Homo sapiens: one gene and its partners. The protein of the gene in region 1 interacts with the protein of each later gene in a biochemical or structural test. Each region holds a gene or a part of one and is shown in the gene's direction. Other genes may lie near its edges. The genes, in order: PPARG, PAK4, JMJD1C, MAP2K1, SIRT1, USP22 and TRIM55.

Region 1 (3,500 bases):
TTCCCGAGTAGCTGGGATCACAGGCATGCACCACCATGACCAGCTAATTTTGTATTTTTAGCAGAGATGGGGTTTCTCCATGTTGATCAGGCTGGTCTCGAACTCCTGACCTCAGGTGATCCACCCTCTTTGGCCTCCCAAAGTGCTGGAATTACAGGTGTGAGCCACCGCACCCGGCCTCAGGGCATTTTTTCTTATGAAGATGACAGCCGAAATCTTCAATCTTCAACTCATGCAAAAGTTTGCCTTTGGAGTGAATTTCTTGGCAATCTGCTTGGTAAGAAAAAGCAAGTGGTGTTAAAGTGAGAGCATTAAAATAAAATTGCTCCAAAAAAATGATAAATAAATAAAAGAAAAGAAAAAGGAAAAGCAAGAGGCCCATGCACAGATACACAGAGGAGAGTGGCCCCTCCTCCATAAGCCTGTTTCATCAATGAGAGAATCAAGAGAGTATGTATATACAGAAGAGAGTTTCAGGGTCAGTCTTGAGTTTGCATCTTCTACTTCCTAGCTAGAGGACCTTGAACAATTCACTTTACTTCTTTGGTCCTAGCTTGCTTATCTATAAAGTGGGAATAATATTTCAGATTATGCAGAAGAAAAGGTAGGATGTACCGGGCACATGGGAAGTGCTTGATCAATACCAATTTGCTTCCCTCCTTCCCTGCCCCTTCTGCTGAAACTTCACAGCTATCTCATTAAGTCATCAATGTATTTAGTATTTAATAAATAAATATTTAACGAGCACCTACTATGAGACAAGCCCTTTGTTAGCCAGTGGGGATATGACTGCAAACAAGAAAGATACGCCTATGATTTGATGAATCCTGGAGTTTATGAGCAGCTCATCTCTGTCTCCCGTGTGAGCAGTCCTAAATTTACACAGCTCTCCACTGGTGTTTTTGACCACAGAGTTAACATTTAAAATACCTATGACTGCTTTTTTGGCACCACTTTGAATAATGAACTGGTGTCAGGTAAACAGAGTCCAGGTACCTATTGCAGAAAGTTTTCCAGTCTGCACCCTCGGTGGCTCACAAGTTCACATGAAGTGAACCAAAAGAGTTTTGTTGCACTTACTGTGACAATAAATCATGTTTAGAAAAATGCATGTGGCATACATGATATTGGGCAAATGATTCATGAAACTTGCTATTCTGTGGCCTTAGAATCCATGTAAGCATTTTTCCTTTGTCTTTTATGTGTTTTCTTGTTTCTATCTCTGTTTTGTTTTGTTTTTGTTTTGGGGATGGTTTAAAATTAATGCTGGGCTAGAGTCTGATTTTGACACTCTCGGGTGTGATCAAATGTTTCCACATATCTCTCTAACCTTTCTATTCTCAATGTGGGGAAAACTTTCTCCGCTTTAAGAAAAGGTGTATCCACAGAAAAGATTATTGAGTAATTTTTCATAGTACAGAAGTAATAATTGAGTGATTTTTCCCTTTAAAATTTTTTTATTTTTGTATTATTTTAAGAACAAAATTATTTTAGGATGCAATTAAAGAAGAAGTTCATTTACCTAAATTTAATTTGCCAACTTTTCTATTACACAAAAGCATTATAAATACAAGTAGAATAGCAAAAATTTCATCCTAAAGAGAAAAATATTTTGGGCTTCTAATTTCAAGAGAGTAAAATTGTCCTGGAACCCTGTGCACACTTTAAAAACAATCATTAACAGATTGCATCAAACTAGAAACTTCTTCACCACAAAGGAAATAATCAATAAAGTGAAAAGCCAGCCTACAGAATAGGGGAATCTGTACATCTGATATGAAGTTATGGATTGCAAATCGTACATCTGATATGGAATTAATATTCCAAAATATGTAAGAAACTCAACAAACTCAATTGCAAGAAAACAAATAACCCAGTTAAAAAATGATAAAGGAATATCCATTTCTAGAAAGAAGACATACAAGTGGCCAACAGATATATGAAAAGGTACTCACCATCACTAATCATCAGGGAAATGCAAATCAAAACCACGGTGAGATATCATCTCACACCCATTAGAATGGCTGTTATCAAAAACACAGAAGATAAGAAGTGTTGGCAAGGATGTGGATAAGAGGGAACCCTTGTACACTGTTGGCAGGAATGTAAATTGGTATAGTCATTATGGAAAACAGAATGGACTGCCTCAAAAAATTAAAAATAGAACTAGCATATGATCTAGCAATCCTACTTCTGGGTATATATCCAAGGGAAATGGAATCAGTATGTTGAAGAGCTATCTGCTCTCCCATGTTCACTGCAGCATTATTCGCAATAGCCAAGATATGAAATCAACCTAAGTGTCAATGGATGAATGGATTTTTGAAAACACAGTATATATCTGTATATATATACACACATACATATATACACATACAGATGTATATGTACACACCCAATAGAATATTATTCAGCCTTAAAAAGAGAAGGAAATCCTGTCATTTGCGACAACAGAGATGAACCTAGAGGACGTTATGCTAAGAGAATTAAACTGGGTGGTATTTGACACAGAAAGACAAATACCACATGATCCACGTGGAATCTAAAAAAGTCGAACTCATAAAAGCAGTGAGTAAAATGGTGGTTGCCAGGAGCTGGAGGGTGAGAGCAATGGGGAGATATCAGCCAGAGTTTCAGTTATGCAGGATAAGCTCTGGTCACCTTCTAAGGTGATCATCTGCTAAGTATAGGTCACCTTCAGCATGGTGACTATAGTTAGTGATACTGTATGGTATATTTGAAATTTGCTAAGACAGTAGATGTTAAGTGTTCTCACTACACATATTCATACTCAAAAAGGTAACTGTGAAGTGATGAATATGTTCATTACCTTGATTATGATAATCATTTCATAGTAAATACGTATATTAAAACATCACATTGAATACCTTAAGTGTTTTGTTTGTTTTTTGGTTTTTTGGGTTTTTTTGTTTTGTTTTGGTTTAGGTTTTTTTTGAGGTGGAGTCTTGCTCTGTCACCCAGGCTGGAGTGCAGTGGTGTGATCTCACCTTACTGCTACCTCTGCCTCCCAGGTTCAAGTGATTCTCCTGTCTCAGTCTCCCAAGTAGCTGGGATTACAGGCGTGCTACCACACCCGGCCAATTTTTGTATTTTTAGTAGAGATGAGGTTTCACCATGTTGGCCAGGCTGGTCTCGAACTCCTGACCTCAGGTGATCCTCCTGCCTCCGCCTCCCAAAGTGCTGGGATTACAGGTGTGAGCCACTGTGCCTGGCCTGTATACCTTAAGTTTAAAAATTTTTGTCTATTATACTCAATAAAGCTGGACAAAATTTTAAATAAATAACAGCAGTCATTAACAGACTCAATTGATGACCTAATGTAGAAGTTAATGAGAGCAGGCCTGTTGGCAAAAAGGCATTTATATGGATACACTGTATGTATCTGCACTGTTTCAGGATCCTCTATTATGATACCTGGGTAAAGGGTGACTTCCTTTCTATCATAAAACAGCCTAGACAGCACTAAGAAGGTGGTTATG
Region 2 (3,500 bases), on another chromosome or scaffold:
AAAGGGGGTGGAGGGACATCTGGGAGGACGGAGAGGCCGGAGGACATGGGACGCAGATCTGGAATGACAGCAGGCAGAGTGGGCAAATGGGGACTGTTGGGGTATGTGGATGACCCTGGGAGCTGGGCCTAGAAAGCCATGAGAGAGTAGGTCAGGGCCACCAGGGGTGGGCTGGGCTGGAAGGCCACGAGGGAGGGGTGGGCAGCACTCAGGGCGCCAGCATTGGGCTCAGAGAAGGGGCTGGGCAGAGACAAAGGAGGCCCCCCGTCCGCCCTCCATCCTGGGCCCCAGGGCAAGCAGGGAAACTGGGCCAACCCTGGGAGCCTTGGCCAGGCCCGGCTCTGACCACCCGCTGGCCTCTTGGGACCAGCTGAGACAGGTTGGCTGCCGGGCCCCCACCCCCCTCCCACGGGGCTCCCGCTGCCAAACCGGTTCCCCTGGCTGGCTCCCATGGATGGTCCTAGCTCTGGGCAGGGCCTCACCTTTCCCAGCTGCTCCCAGGAAGGCAGCCTGAGCCGGGAGGAGAAGTAGGTGTGGAGGGGCTACGTGCATCTGCGCGTCCTCTGTCCTCTCACTAGGGCTACAGGACTTGCTGTGCCACGCGCTGTGCCAGGCGCGGGGGAGCCAGCTGGGACAAGACAGAACAGAAACTCCACCTGCATGTCCCCTCGTCCCCTGGTCTCAACTCTTCCCCTCTTCCTGGAAGCCTTCCTGCTGCCCACCCCGCGTCCCTCCAGACTGGGTCCCGTGCTCCCGTCCCCCAGCCCTGACCACCCTGGGCAGCTGCTGCATGGGGACAGGTCTGTCTGCCCCACACGAATTTCCCATGAGGTCAAAGGCTGTCTGGGTCACTGCAGTGGCCACAGAGGAGGCCCATTGCTGAGTTATTCCCAAATGAATGAATGAATGAGTGAGTGAATGGATGCATTCCTCTCATTTTACAGATGAGTAACCCGAAGCCCCTAGAGGAGTGGTCACCTGCCTGAGGGCACTTCTGTCCCACCAGCATCAGACCAGGTGTGTGCAGGTGTGTGCGACTCCAGGGCCCAGGCCCGGGGCAGCTGGGGTGGGGCCTTAGGGGGGAGCAGGACCTGGGCCCCTCCTCCCACAGGCACTGTGGGAGCCGCCCCAGCCATCACAGTGGTCCCCACCGATAGGCCCCCCATATTTGCCCAGCCCTGCACCAAGCTCTTTGCTCCCAGTCACCCATTACCCCTCGCAGCAGCCCTGTGGGGGTTCATCCACAGCACAGAGAGGTTGTCACCTGCCCAAGGTCACGGCAGCATGTGATGGAGAGTCGAACTCTGGCCTCTTGGCTCCCCCTCCCATCTTTCTCCAGGCTCTCTATGGGATGCCGCCATCAGAATGTCTCTTCCTCAGCCCCTTTGTTTTTTAAAGTGGCTTTGGTCGACCATTTGCTCTGTGCTTGGTACTGTGTCAAGGGCCCGATTGAAGACCACAGATCCTAAAGATAGGGGAGTGTCGCGACAAGGCTGCCTGGGGTGCCCTCTTAACCCAGGGGATCAGTAACCCTGTGCTGAGTCAATATCCAAAGGTGTGGGCGTCCCCAGCCCAGACTCATGGCTGGACCAGTGGCAGTGGCCAGGCCATCAGTGACCGTCCATCCAGTACACACCATGTACCAGGCATAGCAGGGGATGTGGGGAAGCGGGGCAGACGAGACCCAGCCAGAATGTGGCACTGACACTCTAGCGGTGCGGTGTGGATGCTGCACTCATGAACCTAAGAAGGAACAACAAACAGGATTTCCATGAGTTCCGGGCTGTGACTGTGATGTAGAGCGGGGGGACGGCGGGACACGGGGCTCTTTGCCTTGGGGTGGTCAGGAAAGGAGTCACTGCTGCTCTGAGAACTGAAGGAGGGGACGGGGAGCCCTGTGCAGACACTGGGAAGTGAGCTCCTGGCAGAGGGGCCAGCCCGTGCAAAGGCTCTGAGGTCTCCAGGGGGGGTGAGAACAGAGAGGTGATGGGGCCTTGTGGGCCCGCAGGAGACAGAGCGGCAGGAAAGTTCTGAGCAGAGGGACGTGACCGCTCGGGTGCTCACGGGTACCCTCTGGCTGTGTGTGCCACACAGATGGGCGCAGGGGGTGGGCAGGGAGACCCAGAAGGAGGCTACTGCCTCCTGTTGGTCCCGGTGTAAGATGAGGATGGGAGGGACAGAGCAGGGGCAGAGGAGGAAGAGACATGGGCAGGCTCTCACTCACCCACCGTGATTCCCTCCCGCAGGCCGCACCGAGTCCCCGGCACCATGTTTGGGAAGAGGAAGAAGCGGGTGGAGATCTCCGCGCCGTCCAACTTCGAGCACCGCGTGCACACGGGCTTCGACCAGCACGAGCAGAAGTTCACGGGGCTGCCCCGCCAGTGGCAGAGCCTGATCGAGGAGTCGGCTCGCCGGCCCAAGCCCCTCGTCGACCCCGCCTGCATCACCTCCATCCAGCCCGGGGCCCCCAAGGTATGTGGCACCCACCACCACCTCCCCCAGCCCACCCCAACCCCCGAGTGGCCCTGGCCCTCAACCCCACACTCGACCCTGTGACCGACACCTCCTCACTGACATGGAAATGGAGACAAACCCCAGCCTTCCACCCCTATCCTGGGTCCAGTGCTGGCCTTTCACCCTCCACCCACTGGCTCCAAGTCCTAAGAACCCATGCCACCCCAACCTGAGCCTCCCCCACGGCCCATCTGACAGCCCCCACACCAGCCTCCAAGCTCTGCTGTCTCCCGCAGACTCATGTCCCGGGGGCCATGCTGCTGTACCCCGGACCACACTCCTGTCTCACCCAACCTTGAGCCTTTCCAGAGCTCCTGGCAGTGGAAGACAGACCCATTCCCAGAGGGTGACAGCCCCAAGTGGTCAGGGCTTGGGTGGGGGAGCCCGGAGGAGGCACCTGACACAGACCAGGGGTCCAGGCAAGCTTCTGGGAGGAGGGGACACCGAGGCAGAGCCCAGGGCTGAGGAGGAGGAGGAGAAATTCCAGCAGATGCTGGGGAAGCCGGGCTTTAGTGGAGAAAATCACTCCTGTGAAACGCTGGGGGCTTTTTGGTTTTGGGTTTTTTTTTTTCTTCCTGCCATCTAGAGCAAAATGGCAAGGTTGGGATTTGAACCAATGTCTGTTTCCAAGGCCCGTGCTCTTAACCCCTCTGCTGCCTCCATGTGAAATCATAAGAGTTGTGGAGCCGGTGTCTGGGTGTGGCCTGGCATGAGGCTGGCCTGGCCTGAGCCCGTGCTGGGCCTCTGAAGCCAGCCTTGGAGCCTGGACTCTCTCCCATGGTCAGTGGGGACCAGGAGGGGCCGCAGGCCAAGGGGAACTCGGCCAGGTTTGCATCCAGCGGGTGGAGATGGGTGTGCCTGGGGACTCACCCTCCCGGTGCCCAGCCCAGCCTGGCGGGGAGAAGCCCCAAGGCCCACAAGTTGGCCATAGACACAAGTGCAGCCTCAATGTGGTAGCCCACTGAGGGGTCCGTGTGGTCCTTGCA
Region 3 (3,500 bases), on another chromosome or scaffold:
AGTATACAGACTTTTTATCAGGCTTTAAGCATACCTCCTACCTTTCTTCAGCATGCTAGCATATCAGGGGCCTGTCTAAAGAAAGATGGTATGTAATTTATATAACTGTTGATCCACAAAACATAAAAACTAAAATAAATACCTAGTTTAAAATACCTAATTTTTCCAGCACCGGGAAAAATGGCATAGAATAGATGCAGTGGTTATGGAGGGTGGGATTAAAAGTACACAGTGGATTCCTATAGGTGGAATGGGGCTACTACAGCCCAGGTTAACCCTTAAAATTAACAAGGTGTACCAGGGAAACCAGAAAAAACTCAAAAGCTGCTTTGCCTCAACAGTTGGTTCTCCACCTTTTCCACTGCTAAGTAATTGAGATGTAGCTGATGTATATTAGTTTACCAAGGAAACTTTCTCACATTTTATATAAGTATAGTCATTGACTGTTTTAGCATTTATGGCACTCTTCCATACAAATACTACTTAGGTGATAATAATTGCTTAGCTTTTAGGATGTGTCAGATTCAGGGTCAGATTTATCATTATTAGATCTCAAATGGCATTTATGATACAGTAGTAAAATACAAATGTCATAATAATAAATACCTTTTTCTCTATGATAATTTCCTGGAAAAAATGTATTTACATTAAGTGGTTATATTTTCCCATGGACTTATGATTATTTCAGAGATGTCATATTATTTATGTTTCATGTTTAATCTGGGATTCACCCTATACACCATTTCTTTGACTTCTAGACTCTTAGCAGAAAATAGCTAATCTGTATTCAAATGTAAATGCTCTCAAAAGAAGAGCCTATTTAAGAGACTAGTATTATAAATCTTTTTGTACATAGGAATAATCCTTTGATAATACAAAGTAGATTCCCTTGAAGATCTTTATTCACATATTGAATTTATCCAATGTCAGTTTTTATAAAGTTAACCTAGGTAGTGTAGTCATTTTTGTAAATTGAGATATAATTTGCATATAGTGAAATTTACCTTATTTAATGTATAATTCTGTGAGTTTCAACAAATGCATAGTTAGGTAACAACATAATCAAAATGTAGAACAATTCCATCACTCCGAAAAAATTCCCTCTTGCAGTTTTTTTTTTTGTTTTTTGTTTTTTGTTTTTTTGAGACAGAGTCTTGCTCTTGTTGCCCAGGCTAGAGCTCAGTGGCGCGATCTTGGCTCACTGCAACCTCTGCCTTCCGGGTTCAAGCGATTCTCCTGCCTCAGCCTCCCGAGTAGCTGCGGATTACAGGCATGCACCACCACGCCTGTCTAATTTTGTATTTTTAGTAGAGATGGGGTTTTTCCACGTTGGTCAGGCTGGTCTCGAACTCCTGACTTCAGGTAATCTGTCTGCCTTGGCCTCCCAAAGTGCTGGGATTACAGGCATGAGCCACCATGCTCGGCATCCTCTTGCACTTTTATAGTCAGCCTCTTCCCACCCAAAGTTCCTGCAACTAATCTGCTTTTTTGTCCCTATAGTTCCTCTTTTATGAGTATGCTGTAAATTTGGACTCACACAGTATGTACCCTTTAAGTCTGGCTTTTCTTAATGTATTTGAGATTCATTCCTATTGTTGTATTTATCAGTTGATTCTTTTTTTATTGCTGGGTAGTTGTATGAATATTTTTTTCATTTTTTAAATCCGTACATTCACCAGCTGAAGTACATTTTGGTTTTTTCCACTTTGGGGCAATAATAGATAAAGCTATCATAAACATTCATATACATGGTTTTATGTGAACAAAGATTTTTATTTCTGTTAAGTAAATACTGAATGGTGGGATTGCCTGGTGATACTATAATGTATGATTAAATTTAAGAAACTGCCAGACTATTCTCTAAATTGGTTGTTCCATTTTCATTTCCCAGTGCAGGGTTATGTGAGTTTCATTTCCTCTGCTTCCTCACTAGTGCTTGTTACTGTCAGTTTTGTTTTTAGACCATTCTAGTAAGTGTACAGTGGTGTCTCATGGTGGTTTTACTTTGTACTTTCTTAATGACTAAACATTGGGCATCTTTTTATATCTTCATTTGCCATCTGTATATCTACTTTGGTTAAATATGTGTTCAAATATTCTGTCTATTTAGCTGCTTTTTTTCTTACTGAGTTTTGAGTGTTTTTTGCCAATTTCTGATAATGTCTTTTATCTGATAATGTGTTTTACAAATACATTTTCCTTTCCTGTAGCTTCTCTTTTCAAAGAGCATTTTTTTTTCATTTTTCCATTTTTTAAAAGACAGTATCTTGCTCTGTTGCCCAGGTTAGAGTGCAGTGGCACAGTCATAGCTCACTGTAATCTCAAACTCCTGGGTTCAAGTGATCCCCCCACCACACCCTCCTGAGTAGCTAGTACTGTAGATGGACACCACCATGCCCAGCTGATTTTTTAATTTTTTGTGGAGATGGGGTCTTGCTGTGTTGCTCAGGCTGGTCTCGAACTCCTAAGCTCAGGCAATCTTCCTGCCTTGGCCTCCCAAAGTGTTGGGATTGTAGGCATGAGCCAACCCACCTGGCTGGTTTTTTCCATTTTGATGAGGTCCAGTTGATCAGTTTCTCTTTTATGGATGGTATTTTCATAGTATCTACAAAATTGTTGCCTAGCCCAAGATCACTCAGATTTTCTCCTCATTTTCTTCTAGAACCATTATAGTTTGAGGTCCTACATTTGGGTATGCAATGTAGTTCATCTTTGTATGTAGTGCATAGTATGGAGCGAGGTTCAATTTTTTGCATATGGGCATTTGGCTGTTCCAGTACTATTTGTTGAAAATACTACTTTTTAATGTTTTTCTTTTGAAAATGTAATACATAAACAGAAAAATTCAAAAGTATAAAAAGTTCACGGTGAAAATTCAGTATCTCACATTTTTCCCCCAGTTCCTTTTTTCCAGATGCAATCATTGTTACCCCAAAGAGATTCCATGCTTACACTTGTGTCCCTGCTGCTACTTTTTTGGGAACAGTGGTCTTTTAGTAGGCTCAAAGTGACCTTGTTAAAAAGTTAGGTTGGTTTACATATCCACACTTCCCCCTCTGTCTCACTGCCTTCATCTCGTATGGCTCTCCTAGTTCCTCTCTAGCCATCCTGCCCTCTTTGCTTCTTTCACACACACCAAGTATGTTTCCCCCCTCCCCCAGGGTTTTTGTGCTTCTTAATCTTTTTTGCTTGGAATCGTTTTTCTGTCAGGTATCTGTAAGACTTGCTTCTTTACACTTTTTTAGGCTTCATTCAAATTTCACCTTCTTGGTGAGGTCTAGTTTAAAGCTGTAAATTGTGTCCCCCAACTTTCTGTCGTCTTTCCTGCTTTATTTTCCTCCATTTCAGTTGTCACCTTAAAATATGCTTTATAATTTACTCACTTTGCTTGTCTTTTAACCCCCACTGGAACGTAAGCATGATGAAGTAAGAGATTTATCTTTTCCATTGCTCTCTTCCCATGCCTAGAATAATGCACTTAATGTTTGTATTATTAATAA
Region 4 (4,133 bases), on another chromosome or scaffold:
CTTCCAAATTTTCACATTAATTTCCCATGCAATTCTCCCAAGCATTGCTGAGGTAGGCCAAATTGGTTCCTCTTCAAACAGGTGAGGAAATTGAGCCTCCGAGATGAAAAGTAGCCCAGGTCCTTCCCACCCAGTGCTCTTTCTTCCTTGCCACCTCCCACCTCCCATTCTTACCTCCTAGGAGGCTTGGCTGCATGGCAGTTGTTCTACTGCAGCCTCTGCTGGCACACAGCCCCTCTGCTGCCTAGCTCTTTCCTGTTCAGAAGGAATGGATGCTGCCTCTGGAGGCCAAGCTGCTGGTCTCCTCTCTTCCTTGAATGGTCCCTTGATTCCCTCAGCAGTGGGGACAGTCTGCAGAATGGGGCTTGCTCTGGGTCACTGTTCTAAGAGCTGAGTTCTAGTCCTCACCTAAGATCAGACTGACATGGCCCTCAAAGGAAGAGCACTAGGTTGGGCTTTGTGGTGGGGATCAGTGTCTCATTTTTAGTCCCAAATTAAAAACGAGATTTTGGGCTGTACATCAGAGCAGTGACATCATGGACATTATGTCTGTGGGTCAGCATGGGTACACACAGCTCCCAGCCCAGGTACATAAGTGGGCCCACATTTCCTGGACTGCATGGAACGCCATGAGCCCAGTGCTCCAGAGCCTTGTACTGTATAGTGCTGCATGATCACCATGGGAAAATCTGAAAACAGCCTCATTTCTGGAATGTACAGGTAACATTCTTCCAGATCCAGCCCTCTGTCAGTTAATGTTTTATTAACTTTTCACTGCTTCTCTAGGGCTCAGAAAAGGGATTTTTAAAAACCGGTTTGCTTCTGCAGGTGCTGTCAGACCTGGGCTATGCCTGGTGGTTTGCACGTGCCCCTAGCTGTTGCTGCCAGTAAATTGCTGGTTACGTTCCCATGCCGCACTCCAAGATTTACCATTGTAGAGTGTCAGAGCTTGAAAGGGTCCCTGAGATCATTAGGCCCAACCTCTTCATGTCATAGAAGAGTAAACTGAGGCTCATAGAGGAATAGTGATTAGTTCAAAATCACCCGACAAGTGAGTGGACTTGACTTGGTCCCAATTCTAAATGTGCTATTTGAGATCAGTGGTTCCAACATGGTTACCCAACAGGCAGCACTGGCCTTCTACCTGTGCCTTTCCTTGACTGGATGAGAGTAGTACTGCCTTTGGACTGCAGAGAAGACTTTAAAAAAAAGTAGCACTGGCTGGTGGGAGGGGTGGGATGGGGAGAGGAGATGGCTGGAGCAAGGAGCCAGGCATTTTTCTTATCTCAACATGTGTTTGCAGCCTCCTCCAAAACTGCCCAGTGGAGTGTTCAGTCTGGAATTTCAAGATTTTGTGAATAAATGGTAAGTTGGCTCCTTGTTCTCTGGAAGCGTATACTCTGGATTTGTCAGGCTCCCCACCCCATTTCTGGAAGCACCAGCATTGCTTCTGCAGGCAGAGTTTTGCCCTTTACCCTCCCGTCTGATGATTCTTGGCTGCTGCCATAAGCCCTTTTTTAGAGTGCCAAGACTTATGTGGCATGTCTAACTACATCATGGATGTAGTAGCTGCTCCTTTTGGTACTTGCTCTCCAGGGATTGGCACGTTGCTTTTTGACCTTAGTTTAACTCAGCAAGAATGTATTAACTTACTGTGGGCATGATACTGTGCTTAGAACAGGAGGATGAATCAAGCCCAGGCAATCCTCGGCCTCTAGTGTGCAGAGAAGACAGGCATGCAAACATGTTATTTGAGCTAGAACCAGTGCCAGGCAACAGCTCTTACCTTGTCTTTCTTCCTTTAAGCTTAATAAAAAACCCCGCAGAGAGAGCAGATTTGAAGCAACTCATGGTGAGTCTATTTATTCCGGATTCTTACAGTACCTGTTTATTCATTTGTTCTTCTCTGTCAGTCATCTGTGCAGTACTTCCAGAGCCCATTCATTCCCTGCCCACTGTGGTCCAGCTGAGCCTGGGGCTGCAGAATACCAAACACCAGTCTCCTTTGCTCTCCCATCAGTTTAAGGGAAAGCTGGGGTGACCCCCGCAGCCTGAGTAAGCATATGCCAGAGGAAATGCCTGAGGGGGCCATGGGAAAGAAAAGGCCAGCCCACCCCCTTCATGGGGATGCGGCCTTTCCCTAATACTGACTGCCTCATCTTACATTCAGCCTCCTTCCAGAGTCACTCTCCGCCTGCTGTCTCGTTTGGTGGCAGTGGAAATAGCTAAGTAATACTGTAAATATCTGGACAGCCATAGACGGTGTATATAGTATATAATATGCACTAAGTCCATCATTTTCTTTGTCCCTTCTAACAAGCCTGTGAGGCATTTAAGGCAGAGTTACTGTCTCCATACTGCACGAGTAGGCTCCAAGAGGTGACTTGCCCAAGGCCTCACAGCTGCTGTGACTGGTGGAGCAGGTCTTTGGGCCTGCAGCTGGCCCCACTGTTGCTCAGGGGCAGGTGCCAGGTGCTCTTTCCAAGTGCAGCACAAGCTCTAGACCTGAAACTCTTGGATTTTCCTTCCTGGTGGGTTTTGTTTTTTTGTTTCTTTTTAACACCACGTCCTCTCGTTTCCTTACATGCAGGTTCATGCTTTTATCAAGAGATCTGATGCTGAGGAAGTGGATTTTGCAGGTTGGCTCTGCTCCACCATCGGCCTTAACCAGCCCAGCACACCAACCCATGCTGCTGGCGTCTAAGTGTTTGGGAAGCAACAAAGAGCGAGTCCCCTGCCCGGTGGTTTGCCATGTCGCTTTTGGGCCTCCTTCCCATGCCTGTCTCTGTTCAGATGTGCATTTCACCTGTGACAAAGGATGAAGAACACAGCATGTGCCAAGATTCTACTCTTGTCATTTTTAATATTACTGTCTTTATTCTTATTACTATTATTGTTCCCCTAAGTGGATTGGCTTTGTGCTTGGGGCTATTTGTGTGTATGCTGATGATCAAAACCTGTGCCAGGCTGAATTACAGTGAAATTTTGGTGAATGTGGGTAGTCATTCTTACAATTGCACTGCTGTTCCTGCTCCATGACTGGCTGTCTGCCTGTATTTTCGGGATTCTTTGACATTTGGTGGTACTTTATTCTTGCTGGGCATACTTTCTCTCTAGGAGGGAGCCTTGTGAGATCCTTCACAGGCAGTGCATGTGAAGCATGCTTTGCTGCTATGAAAATGAGCATCAGAGAGTGTACATCATGTTATTTTATTATTATTATTTGCTTTTCATGTAGAACTCAGCAGTTGACATCCAAATCTAGCCAGAGCCCTTCACTGCCATGATAGCTGGGGCTTCACCAGTCTGTCTACTGTGGTGATCTGTAGACTTCTGGTTGTATTTCTATATTTATTTTCAGTATACTGTGTGGGATACTTAGTGGTATGTCTCTTTAAGTTTTGATTAATGTTTCTTAAATGGAATTATTTTGAATGTCACAAATTGATCAAGATATTAAAATGTCGGATTTATCTTTCCCCATATCCAAGTACCAATGCTGTTGTAAACAACGTGTATAGTGCCTAAAATTGTATGAAAATCCTTTTAACCATTTTAACCTAGATGTTTAACAAATCTAATCTCTTATTCTAATAAATATACTATGAAATAAAAAAAAAAGGATGAAAGCTACTTTTGCTTTTGTGGTAAGCTTTTCAGTTTCTTTAGTACACAAGAAATACTGGTTTAGCCAAGCAACACTGGTGAGGGGGAAAGGTGAAGATGAGGAGGAGGCTGGAAGGCAGAAACAGGACACCGAGTTCAGTGCTTTGGACTAATGGGGCTTCCTGTAATTTCAATCTCTGGACTCAGTCCAGCTCTTCTCACCCAACACCCTTATCTGTGACTCTTCCAACCACCTTCCTTGTGGGACCTGTGAATAGATCCTGTATATTCCTTTGATCTCTTTTATACAAGGGAAAAGCAGCTGATGGGGGACTGGGAGCAAATCTGAGAAAAATGACAAAACATTTCTTATCTCACAGAACATTTCTCATTTTCCATATACCAATAGTTGAGCTGAGGGCCTGCCTGCACTTTTAGGCTGTCATGCTCATAGGAGGGCCTTGCTGGTGGCCAGCTTGCCTACCTGGTGTGGGAGCTTTCTGCACAACATAGGACAGTCTGTCTCC
Region 5 (3,500 bases), on another chromosome or scaffold:
AAATTGGCCTGACTTAAAAATTCCTTATCTGTGTTAAAGATGGAATATGAGGTATGTTTAATTTTACTCAGTTATTTGGGAGTTTTATTTCTGAAATAAGGGTAGGGTTGTATTTTTATTTCTTAAAAGAAGTTTCAGACTAAAATTTTCTTTCTCAACTCTTACCTAATTATATGGTAAGAGAGCTAGCTAGTTCCTATAAAGGTAGAAGATTTAATTTTACAAATTATGCCATGCACATTTTAGGTGTCTGTTTCATGTGGAATACCTGACTTCAGGTCAAGGGATGGTATTTATGCTCGCCTTGCTGTAGACTTCCCAGATCTTCCAGATCCTCAAGCGATGTTTGATATTGAATATTTCAGAAAAGATCCAAGACCATTCTTCAAGTTTGCAAAGGTACTATGAACTCTTCTGGTTGTTTCTTTGGCCTTCTCTCATGAAAAAGTATTTTGTTCACATACAGCCACCTTAAGGTTATCGTTCATTGTTTAGTAAAGTGAATGCTGCTACTGTGGCGGAGTAAGATCACTCATTATGGCTAGAATTCCTTTATTCCTAGAGGAGGACTATTATCTACTTCATTTTAGGAGTGAGCTTATTTTCAAAGAGATAGTTCATATTTTTAAAATTTGCACTGCAGCGATGGTCGTTATTCTGCCTGGGCTTTTTTAAGAGGTTTGCACACCATATAAAAGTAACATAACTTGTGATTTTTAATATTTTATTAGAGATTGTAAAGGTTATAACATCACTTTGGTGTTTCGTAGTCAAGTTTTAACATAAGGATGTGCCTGAAAAATCATTTGTAATTAGAGAATGGGAAGATTCTTGGGTTGCATTTTTGTCAGCAAATTGCAGAGGATCATTATTCTGCTCTAGAGTTGCACCGTCCAGTTCAGAAGCCACTAGCCACATGTGGCTGTTGAGTACTTGAAATGTATTGATATGTGCAATAAGTGTAGAAGACATATTGGATTTTAGAGATCCAGTATGGAAAATACAAAGTATTTCATTAGTTTTATTCATCAAATATTAAACAAATATTGGTTTTTATATGGAAAAAATACTTAAAATTAATTTTGAATTCTTTTGAAATACTTTTGATATTGGGTTAAATAAAATGTATTTTGGGCTGTGCGTGTTGCCTCATGCCTGTAATTTCAGCACTTTGGGAGGCCAAGGTGGGAGGATCAGTTGAGCCCAGGAGTTTGAGACCAGCCTGAGCAACATAATGAGACTCCATCTCTACAAAATAAATAATAAAATTTGCTGAGCATGGTGGTGTGCACCTGTAGACCCATCCACTCAGTAGTCTGAGGTGGGAAGATCCCTTGAGCTCAGGAGCTCAAGACTGAGTGAACCATGATCTGCCATTGCACTCCACCCTGGGCAACAGAGCAAGAGTGTTTCCAAAATATATGTATGTTTTTTGAAGTTTACTTTTTTTTTTTTTCTTTTTTTGAGAAGTAGTCTTCCTTTGTCCCCCAGGCTGGAGTGCAATGGCATGATCTTGGCTCATAGCAACCTCTGCCTCCCAGGTTCAAGTGATTCTCCTGCCTCAGCATCCTGAGTAGCTGGGATTACAGGCGCCCGCTACCATGCCCAGCTAATTTCTGTATTTTTAGTAGAGACAGGGTTTCACCAGGTTGGCCAGGCTGGTGTTGAACTCCTGACTTCAGGTGATCCACCCTCCTCGGCCTCCCAAGGCTCTGGGATTATAGGCGTGAGCCACCGCGCCTGGCCAGTTTTCACCTTAATGTGGTTACTAAACAATTTAAAGTTATATGTATGTCTCACATTATGTACCTATTGTACAGCTCTGCTTTAGCATAGAAAGTTTAATAATGCATTACACCATTCTCAAGAGATTGAGTCATTAGAAAACTGTTTTCTTTCCTGTATTTCAGTCTTTTGGAAAGAAATTACAAAATTTGTTATTGTTAAACTTGGAGGTATATATATTTGAAAGAGTCATTTTATTTTATTTTACTTTAAGTGCCGGGATACATGTGCAGAATGCGCAGATTTGTTAACATAGGTATACATGTGCCATGGTGGTTTGCTGCATCTATCAACCTGTCATCTAGGTTGTAAGCCCCACATTCATTAGGTATTTGTCCTAATGCTTTTCCACCCCTTGCCCCCCACCTCCTGACAGGCCTCTGTGTGTGGTGTTCCCCACCCTGTGTCCATGTGTTCTTATTGTTCAACTCTCACTTATGAGTGAGGACATGTGGTGTTTGGTTTTCTGTTCTTGTGTTAGTTTGCTGAGGATGATGGCTTCCAGCGAAGGAGTCTTGTATTAGTGGCTTTTTCCCCACCTAATCGTTAGAAGTTGTGAATAGGGACTTCTTTAATGAATCCAGAAGTTAATGAACCTAGCTTTTTTTTTTTTTTTTTTGGAGACGGAGTCTGGCTCTGTTTCCCAGGCTGGAGTGTAGTGGTGTGATCTCTGCTCACCATACAACCTCCACTTCCCGAGTTCAAGAGATTCTCCTGCCTCAGCCTTCCGAGTTGTTGGGACTACAGGCGCGTGCTGCCATGCCTGGCTAATTTTTGTATTTTTGGTAGAGACGGGGATTCACTATGTTGGCCAGGTTGGTCTTGAACTCCTGACCTTGTGGTCCGCCCATCTCAGCCTCCCAAAGTGCTGGGATTACAGGTGCGAGGCACCGCGCCCCGCGCCCTGCCGATGAACCTAAATTTTAACTAAACAGTGGCCTTATCTACTTTCAGACCATGTGGTATATTTACATGACTACAGGAGAAGCTTTGCTAATTCAGAATAAATTATGTTACTTAAATTGGCGACTGTCTTTAAAAAAAAAGTGATTTTTTGGATGCAGTAGCTCGTGCCTATAATCCCAGTGCTTTGGGAAGCTGAGATAGGAAGATCTCTTGAACTCCGGAGTTTGAGACCAGCCTGCGCAACACAGTGAGACCCTAATCACTACACCCCTCCACCCCATGTAACTTTTGTTTTATCCAGGTTGTGGTATATTAAATGGGCATTAGTGTAAAGTGGGAAAATTATATTAATTCTTGAATATGATTACTAAACTGAATTTGAAAAGTTTTCAGGCTATCAAGAGAATTTTTAACTTAAAACTTATATAATTTGAACTTTTTACTTCATATATCCGTAATGATGATGGTCATCTATATCTAGCTTTTAGAGCAGACAACTGGTTCATACCTGGATTAAATAAATAATGTAAAGTTATTTTTTGTTAATTATGGATTAGTGAAGATTTACTGTTTTAACCTACTCCTGCTAGTGGCACTACTGCATGGTTTTGAAGACCAGTGAAGTATGACTTAAAGGTTTCTTGAATTGGAGCTAGGACACTGGCATTTATAAAATCTCCACGTAGCGCAGACATTGACACTATCAGAAGACCAGCAAGTAACTAGAAGTTACTTTGATCTTAAATCAACTACAAAAAACTTGACTCACTAGTTATGGAGAATACATTTTTTATTGTTAAACTGAAAAA
Region 6 (3,500 bases), on another chromosome or scaffold:
ATTGGCTTTTCTTGCACATCCTAATTCTCTGGGGACGCATCCAGGGTACAGCTTGGGATCAGTAGTTCCTTCCTTTTTTGCTGCTGTCTCATACTCCATGGTACAGTGTTCCACAGTTTCTTTAATTATTCAGCCATGGGAAGAAACGGGGTGTTTCCAGTTTTGTGACTCTCGTGAGTAACATTCTGGTGCACATTTGTGGACAGTTTGTGTGTGAACATTAGTTTTCATTTCTCTGGCTCAAATTCAACTGCTGGGTCATATGGTACTTAGAAAATTATTACCATTTCCCCAGGCCTTTCCTGGAAAAAAAATATTTAAGATAAATATTCTGTAGAGACAGGCAGCAAAGGTGGACAACATTTTCTCTTTTTTTCATTGTTTCATTTTTAGTTGTAAGTGTATGTTTTTGGTAGGGAAATCAACCCAATGAAAGAGATAAAATACCTCTTTCCTCTCATTTTTCTGTCTCTTGCATCTCCCTTACCGCTCCTGTCTTTTTTGAACGCCTGTAGATTCACCAGACCAGAGCACTTGGGCAGCAGCGCCAAGATCAAGTGCAGCGGTTGCCATAGCTACCAGGAGTCCACAAAGCAGCTCACTATGAAGAAACTGCCCATCGTAGCCTGTTTTCATCTCAAAGTAAGTTTTCCAGAAAGCCAACTCTAATGGCAGACTTAGTTTTTAGTCCACAGTACGGTCCTCAGCCTTTTGGTTTGCTGTGCAGTTACATTTTTTATAATTGCAGCAAGCAGGAAGAACACCGAGGAAGGGAGGGTGTGAGGGAATTGTCCTCCCATCTGTGAATTGTCCTTTTGTCTGTGCTGCGGTAAACAAAATCAGTGGCTTCGCAGTGAAAGTAGAATGTGAGTTTTCTTGGGAGCAGAGTGGTTGTGAAGTTTTTATTACTTCTACCATTCCTCCAGCTACCCCCTCCTCAGGTTTTCTGTTTTATTTTAAGACAAAGGCCCTCAGCATGCAGATCTGGTCCAGGAGTTGGCAAGCTCTTTCTCTAAAGGCCCAGATAACTGAAGATGTCGAGCTCCACAGGCTGCGTGCGATCATACGATTCTCTGTTACATGTTCTTTGTTTCATTTCACCACCCTTTAAACATGGAAAACGCCCATTCCTAGCTTGCTGGCTGGAATGGGTGACTCCTGATCTAGGCAAAGGACTGTCTTCTGTCTGGTGAAAGGAACAATTTGTTCATTTTTGCTGCCATGGGCCACGGATCTTTGTTTTGTTTTCTGTGCTTTGCTGGGTTTGCTGTAAGATTACTTTTTGTACCCTTGGTGTTACCACTGAACAGTCCCATCATTTGAAGACTTGAACCCTGTAAATGAGGACTTGGGTGGATTGCCACTGTGTTTTTGAATCTGTAATTCTAGATGTAGCTACAAGGCAGTTCAATAAAATACAAAAGAGATAACACAGACACCTGTCATCAGAAGAAGGCCCTGAAGCTTCCAGTGACATTTCTGATCTTCTTTCCTCTTCCCTCTGTCCCCTTCCTATTTCTGCAGCGATTTGAACACTCAGCCAAGCTGCGGCGGAAGATCACCACGTATGTGTCCTTCCCCCTGGAGCTGGACATGACCCCTTTCATGGCCTCCAGGTATGTGGGGTTGTAGGCCCGTTCTGTGTCCTGAGGGGCTGTGATCCTATCAGGACAGGAATCCAGCTCGGAGCTCCTATTAAGATGACTGTTGGCCGGGTGCAGTGGCTCCCGCCTGTAATCCCAGCACTTCAGGAGGTCGAAGCGGGCAGATCATGAGGTCAACAGATTGAGACCATCATGGCCAACATGGTGAAACCCCGTCTCTACTAAAAATACAAAAATTAGCTGGGTGTGGTGGCAGGCACCTGTAGTCCCAGCTATTTGGGAGGCTGAGGCAGGAGAATCGCTTGAACCCAGGAGGTGGAGGTTGCAGTGAGCCAAGATCGCGCCACTGCACTCCAGCCTGGTGACAGAACGAGACTACGTCTAAAAAAAAAAAAAAAAATGACTGTCGATACTAATATAAACCCCACCTTCCCCAAATCTGTTTATCCTGATCTTAAGATACAGCACATGTTAATGAGTTGTTTTTCATCAGATACCCTGTTTTTGTTTTGAATTTCTCAACAATTATCAATCCACTTTCAAACCGGCAAAGTCCTCAAGGTGGGATCACAGCGAGAAGGCAACATTTTAGTTCGTGGAACAGATGTTGAAGTACAGGCAGACATAGTTGGTTTTGCAGTTGTAGATTGCATTTTCCTTTTCAAATCTGCCTATTCTGGGGTACTTGGAATTCAGCTGCTTACTAATGCATGAGACACATAGGAGTTTCCTGTGGTTCTGTGACAAATGACCAAAAACCTGGCGGCTTAAAATTAATTTCCTCACAGTTCTAGAGGTTGGAAATCTGAAATCAAGGTGTTGGCAGGGCTCCATGTCCTACAAGGGTCTTGGGGATTCCATTCCTCACCGCCTCCAGCTGCTGGTGGTTCCACGTGTTCCTTCTGTGGCTGTCACTCCCCTGGCTTCCGGGTCACATGGCCAGCTCCCCTGACTCTGTGTCCAGTTCCCTCTGCTTCTCTGTCATGACCGTGGTCATTGGCTTTAGGACCTAGGCAGATCATCCAGGAGGATCTCATCTCAACATCTTTACTTTGAGTCTCTGCAAAGACTGGTTTTACAAATGAGGTCCCAGTCTCAGGTTCTGAGGGTTGAGACGTGGATGTTGTTATTTGCAGGGTGTTATTTTTTGGTGGCCACAGTCCCAGCCCCAGCACCGTGGAAAGCATGTTGCTTTTTGGTAGTTAGCGGCCTCTTCCTGGTGTCCTCTCATGGCTGTCCCACCCCTGTGGCACACAGATGACCTCCTGAATAAAACAAGACCAGAGTCAGAGCTCCATATCATCAGTCTGACCACGATGGTCACGTACTGAGGGAGGTGACAGTACTGTTCTAAGGTCAGGGTCTCAAAGATCTTGGTGTTTCCTGCCAAACACAGCTGTAGGAAAATGCAGTAAATAATGTGCATGGCTTCCTGTTCCCAGCACTCCTCTCCCCCATCTCACCAGGGGAGGTGCTGGTCATGAAATAATGAGCAGCAATCTTTGTCCCTTTTGAGGAGGCACCTGCCTAGGTTGTAGAATGGATTCAGCGTACCCTTTCAAGCTAACCCTTTACATGTGGGAGGAAGAGCACCTTCACCATCTGCTTTGTCACAAACCAAACTCACATTCCTCCAGATCCAGCTCCCATTACCAGCCCTATTCAGGACCCACCTTGGAAGAACCAGGGGCCACGCCAGGTGGCCTCAGGACCCAGGTGTGCTCTGAGGCAGGGGCCTCCACAGCTTGAGCGTCAGTGTCCTCACGAAACATGGGGAGATTTCTGCCTGAAGCATAAAGTGCACCTCGGTGCAGCATCTGCATGGTCAAGCTTGGATAAGTGTTGGTTTCACGAGAGCCTTGTGTCTCTGGGCCTGATGATTTTAATGATGCTGAA
Region 7 (3,500 bases), on another chromosome or scaffold:
CTGGAAGTCCGTGCAATTTTCTTACAAGACCCAGGGCTTCTCCCAATGTTTAGCCTAATCTCAAGTAATTGACGTCCACCTAGCAACTTATAAAGGAACATTAGCGTCTTACAGAGGCACATCAGCACGTTCTCTGCCTTTCTCTGAGTTCTGGGTCTGCAGCTACAAGATACCACACATCAAAAAAGATGGGTTTCAAACACTTGTATTCATGATTTACAGTAGGAAGTGCATTTTACATTGTGACCACTTACATATATGGACGGATATATATACACACACATATGTATATACACACATACACAAACACACACACACACACAAACACACATATACTTTTGTTTCAGTCACATATATACACACGTACACCTGAAACAAAAGTTTCGAACAGCAATACTTATTTTTACTACATGTAATTCACAGTATTTGCTATTCCATTCTATTTTTATTTTAACAATGCAGATCATAGCTCCCTAAATTGATTTCATGGCTCATAAAAACCTGTAGTTTTTAAAAATTGGATCTGTATAGCAACAAAACAAAATGTAGTCCCAAATCTAAGATGTTGCTAAATAACTATGTGTTTGGAAATTTGAAGAAAGCTTCTGGATTTGGATTTGAATTTTTTGAATACTTCTGAAAACTATTAGCAGCCTCAGTCATTAGATAGGATATATCAGAATTCCTGGGGTTTATATAAGGAGGTACACCCACACTTGCGTCTCATACACATTTGCATCCAACCAGTACTTGAATTAATAATCAGAAGATTTTGGTTCCATGTGAGCCACACCTATCCTCATTTCTTCAGGTGAAAAGGGTCTTTCCTGGGGCCAGAGGCTGGAGGGGGGCGATCTAGCTACTCCTAAAAGCTGGTGCAAACTCGACTTTTAGTTCATCAACAATTTCCTGTTCTTGGTCCATAATGGGAAAGTGTCCCTTGAGAAACTTGTGAGCATGTAGACACAGTGCTGGACCACGTTCCTGATGGCTCACCAGGGTTCGATATTCTACTTTCAGGAATTTCACTACCAGATTCTGAAACCTTAAATAACTTAAAATTGGCCATGTGGAAATACACCATGGAAATGGGCAAATGGTACAAATCAGGATCTCCACGTCTCTGTCCCTACCCCAAGCAGGTTGTTAGAGATTTGCCAGCACTCCCCTGCTACACCTGCAGGGAAGCTGAATTTGGTGGGCTCTGAGCATGTGAAAGGGCCCCTGGGGGTCTTCTGGAATAGAATTGCTGGGCATACAGGGAAGAGAAGGAATTTGCAAGGCAGAGCAACATCAGCTCTGCCTTGATGAGATTGCCCCAGTGAGAGCTGATGGACATTTATCTGCCTACCTCCTCCCAGGCCAGAAAAGAAATCCGACCAGCCCATGTGCGAGGAACATGAAGAGGAGCGCATCAACATCTACTGTCTGAACTGCGAAGTACCCACCTGCTCTCTGTGCAAGGTGTTTGGTGCACACAAAGACTGCCAGGTGGCTCCCCTCACTCATGTGTTCCAGAGACAGAAGGTAACAGAGCTGCTCCCTCCCTCCCGCAACCCCTCCCCATCCCCACACCTTAGGGCCTTCCTGGGGCCAGTGTGAGTGGCTCCCTGCGGTGGAGGAGGAAGCCCAAGCCACGCAGGGCCATGGGACACTGGAGGGCACACAAGGTCTGCAGGAAGACATGTGCACAGTTGTGCACGAGGCACACACCAAATTCCCTGGACGGTGGGGGACCAGGCGAGACAGGGCAGGGGTGCCCAGGTTCAGGAAGTGGTGCAGAACGGCACGATCCCTGTTTTTGTGCCCTTTGGAGGTTGCTGATGATGAGCAATGTTAGGGGACCCAGCAAAAGCTCAAACTGCTCCAGCTTATGTGAAGTTTAGACTACAGATAAGAAAAGGACAGCTTTTTACCCTAGTCACAGAATACTTTCCTTCATCCACCCATGAAAGATTTCTTTGGCCCTCCTCAATGCCTTTTATCCCGCACTCTTAGTGAGGGAGGGTTACACTGATGACATGCAGTTACAGAACAGCTTTAAAACACAGACTTGTGCTGGCCCTCCTGTCACCAGGGCCAGTTGCCTAAAAACCCCTCTGAGTGTGGTGTCTCCCCCTGACCCCAGGGCCTCAGCCATGGCCCCCTAATTCTGAGCAGACAGAAAGACAGTGTCTCCCTCTACACATTACCAACCTGCCAACCTGGTTTCATTCATGAGCAGGTCAGAATTTATCCATCTGGTACAGATAAAAGTGGAGTTGGGTACTCCAATAGGTGCAGCCACTCCAGGCACCGAGAACTTGAGCAGTTCCACTACTCAGTTTCTTTCATTTAGAATCATCAGTTCCACATTTGATCAGTGTTTTACTGTGAAGATCAGTGCTGAAATCAAATTTGGAAGCAAAACTCTTGGGCAACACCAATTACAGCTAGTGGCCACTAAGTCCTAAAGAAACAGATTTTGCAAATTATCCACAACATTTGTTTATTTTTGAATCCAGTTACAATTTATTCCCCCTTCTCTTCTGCCCACCTCCCCCAAAGCATAGCATAATAGAACTGGATGGTAGCTGTTTCACACTCCTTCCTTCAGAGCCTGGAGACTCATGTGAGATGGACAGAAGAACAGACTGGTGGGACCCTCACCCTTGCTCCTGTTTGGCCAAAGCAGCTTCACCTCCATATTAGCTTTCACTTGAAGAAGGTTCTGCAGCTTTAAAATATTTTATAATCACTGTTCTGGTCCAATCTTCTCCTTCTAAATGTGAGAAAATTAGGGTCAAAATTGAATATATGTTTTGCCCAACATCACAGAGAAGTTGGGGGTAGAGTTGGACCAAGCGCATGGGTCTCCCAAGTGCCCCTCCAGTGCTCCTGGTGGCTCCATCAGCCAGTCTTGGGAAGGGGGTAAATAGGAACAATAGAATCTCTTCCTAAGTCAAAAGAGCAAAGGAATTTAAAAGTTGACATTTCTCCCCTAGAACTAGTTCTTTGTTTCAGTGTGAAGTTTGTAATGACTTAGTCTAATGTGTGAGTGTTTGTGTCTGTATACACTATATTCTTATGCCCATAATAAGTATTTGTTGAATAAATGAGTATTTACTATACACATTTCCCAAGTAAAATTGACCCTTAGTTCCACTAGGCAAATAATTCCATTTGGGTCCCTGAAGTCACATATTGGTCTCCATGCTATTTATAAACAATACTTAGAATTCTTTAGCTTGAACATGTTGATCTTAATATTAAGACTGATGAAAACTGTGAAACCTTTCCCTGCACAAATGGATTCATACACAAAGGTTTGCTTGCAATATCAGAAGGTCCACAGGCCTCCCTGTTAGTCCTTAGGGGTTGCATGGATCCTAAATTAAGAACCTGTAAAGACAATATTATGACCAATTCACAGTCGGGGTGGCTAGGAAACCCCTAAGATATTGGGTTCATGTTTTCTCTTCATTAGTCTGAGCTCAGTGATGGCATCGCCATCCTCGTGG

The links.
Region 2: the proteins of PPARG (region 1) and PAK4 form a complex in vitro, tested with the Homo sapiens proteins (one study listed by BioGRID).
Region 3: the proteins of PPARG (region 1) and JMJD1C interact in a test that uses a peptide from one of them, tested with the Homo sapiens proteins (one study listed by BioGRID).
Region 4: the proteins of PPARG (region 1) and MAP2K1 form a complex in vitro, tested with the Homo sapiens proteins (one study listed by BioGRID).
Region 5: of the proteins of PPARG (region 1) and SIRT1, one has a biochemical effect on the other in vitro, tested with the Homo sapiens proteins (one study listed by BioGRID).
Region 6: the proteins of PPARG (region 1) and USP22 form a complex in vitro, tested with the Homo sapiens proteins (one study listed by BioGRID).
Region 7: of the proteins of PPARG (region 1) and TRIM55, one has a biochemical effect on the other in vitro, tested with the Homo sapiens proteins (one study listed by BioGRID).

What each region holds. Positions count from the first base shown.
Region 1 is NC_000003.12:12,376,070-12,379,569, forward strand, and holds part of PPARG (peroxisome proliferator-activated receptor gamma), read left to right. Parts: intron 1-3,500. UniProt on the Homo sapiens protein: Nuclear receptor that binds peroxisome proliferators such as hypolipidemic drugs and fatty acids.
Region 2 is NC_000019.10:39,167,286-39,170,785, forward strand, and holds part of PAK4 (serine/threonine-protein kinase PAK 4), read left to right. Parts: intron 1-21; exon of another isoform or gene 22-101; intron 102-578; exon of another isoform or gene 579-800; intron 801-944; 5' UTR 945-1,017; exon of another isoform or gene 1,018-1,027; intron 1,028-1,339; exon of another isoform or gene 1,340-1,555; intron 1,556-2,246; 5' UTR 2,247-2,268; coding exon 2,269-2,472; intron 2,473-3,500. UniProt on the Homo sapiens protein: Serine/threonine-protein kinase that plays a role in a variety of different signaling pathways including cytoskeleton regulation, cell adhesion turnover, cell migration, growth, proliferation or cell survival.
Region 3 is NC_000010.11:63,172,478-63,175,977, reverse strand, and holds part of JMJD1C (probable JmjC domain-containing histone demethylation protein 2C), read left to right. Parts: intron 1-3,500. UniProt on the Homo sapiens protein: Probable histone demethylase that specifically demethylates 'Lys-9' of histone H3, thereby playing a central role in histone code. Demethylation of Lys residue generates formaldehyde and succinate.
Region 4 is NC_000015.10:66,487,912-66,492,044, forward strand, and holds the end of MAP2K1 (dual specificity mitogen-activated protein kinase kinase 1), read left to right. Parts: intron 1-1,303; coding exon 1,304-1,365; intron 1,366-1,806; coding exon 1,807-1,852; exon of another isoform or gene 1,853-2,590; coding exon 2,591-2,704; 3' UTR 2,705-3,633; downstream 3,634-4,133. UniProt on the Homo sapiens protein: Dual specificity protein kinase which acts as an essential component of the MAP kinase signal transduction pathway.
Region 5 is NC_000010.11:67,891,156-67,894,655, forward strand, and holds part of SIRT1 (NAD-dependent protein deacetylase sirtuin-1), read left to right. Parts: intron 1-246; coding exon 247-399; intron 400-3,500. UniProt on the Homo sapiens protein: NAD-dependent protein deacetylase that links transcriptional regulation directly to intracellular energetics and participates in the coordination of several separated cellular functions such as cell cycle, response to DNA damage, metabolism, apoptosis and autophagy.
Region 6 is NC_000017.11:21,005,012-21,008,511, reverse strand, and holds part of USP22 (ubiquitin carboxyl-terminal hydrolase 22), read left to right. Parts: intron 1-515; coding exon 516-642; intron 643-1,524; coding exon 1,525-1,616; intron 1,617-3,500. UniProt on the Homo sapiens protein: Deubiquitinase that plays a role in several cellular processes including transcriptional regulation, cell cycle progression or innate immunity.
Region 7 is NC_000008.11:66,133,629-66,137,128, forward strand, and holds part of TRIM55 (tripartite motif-containing protein 55), read left to right. Parts: intron 1-1,361; coding exon 1,362-1,527; intron 1,528-3,466; coding exon 3,467-3,500. UniProt on the Homo sapiens protein: E3 ubiquitin ligase that plays an important role in regulating cardiac development and contractility, muscle growth, metabolism, and fiber-type differentiation.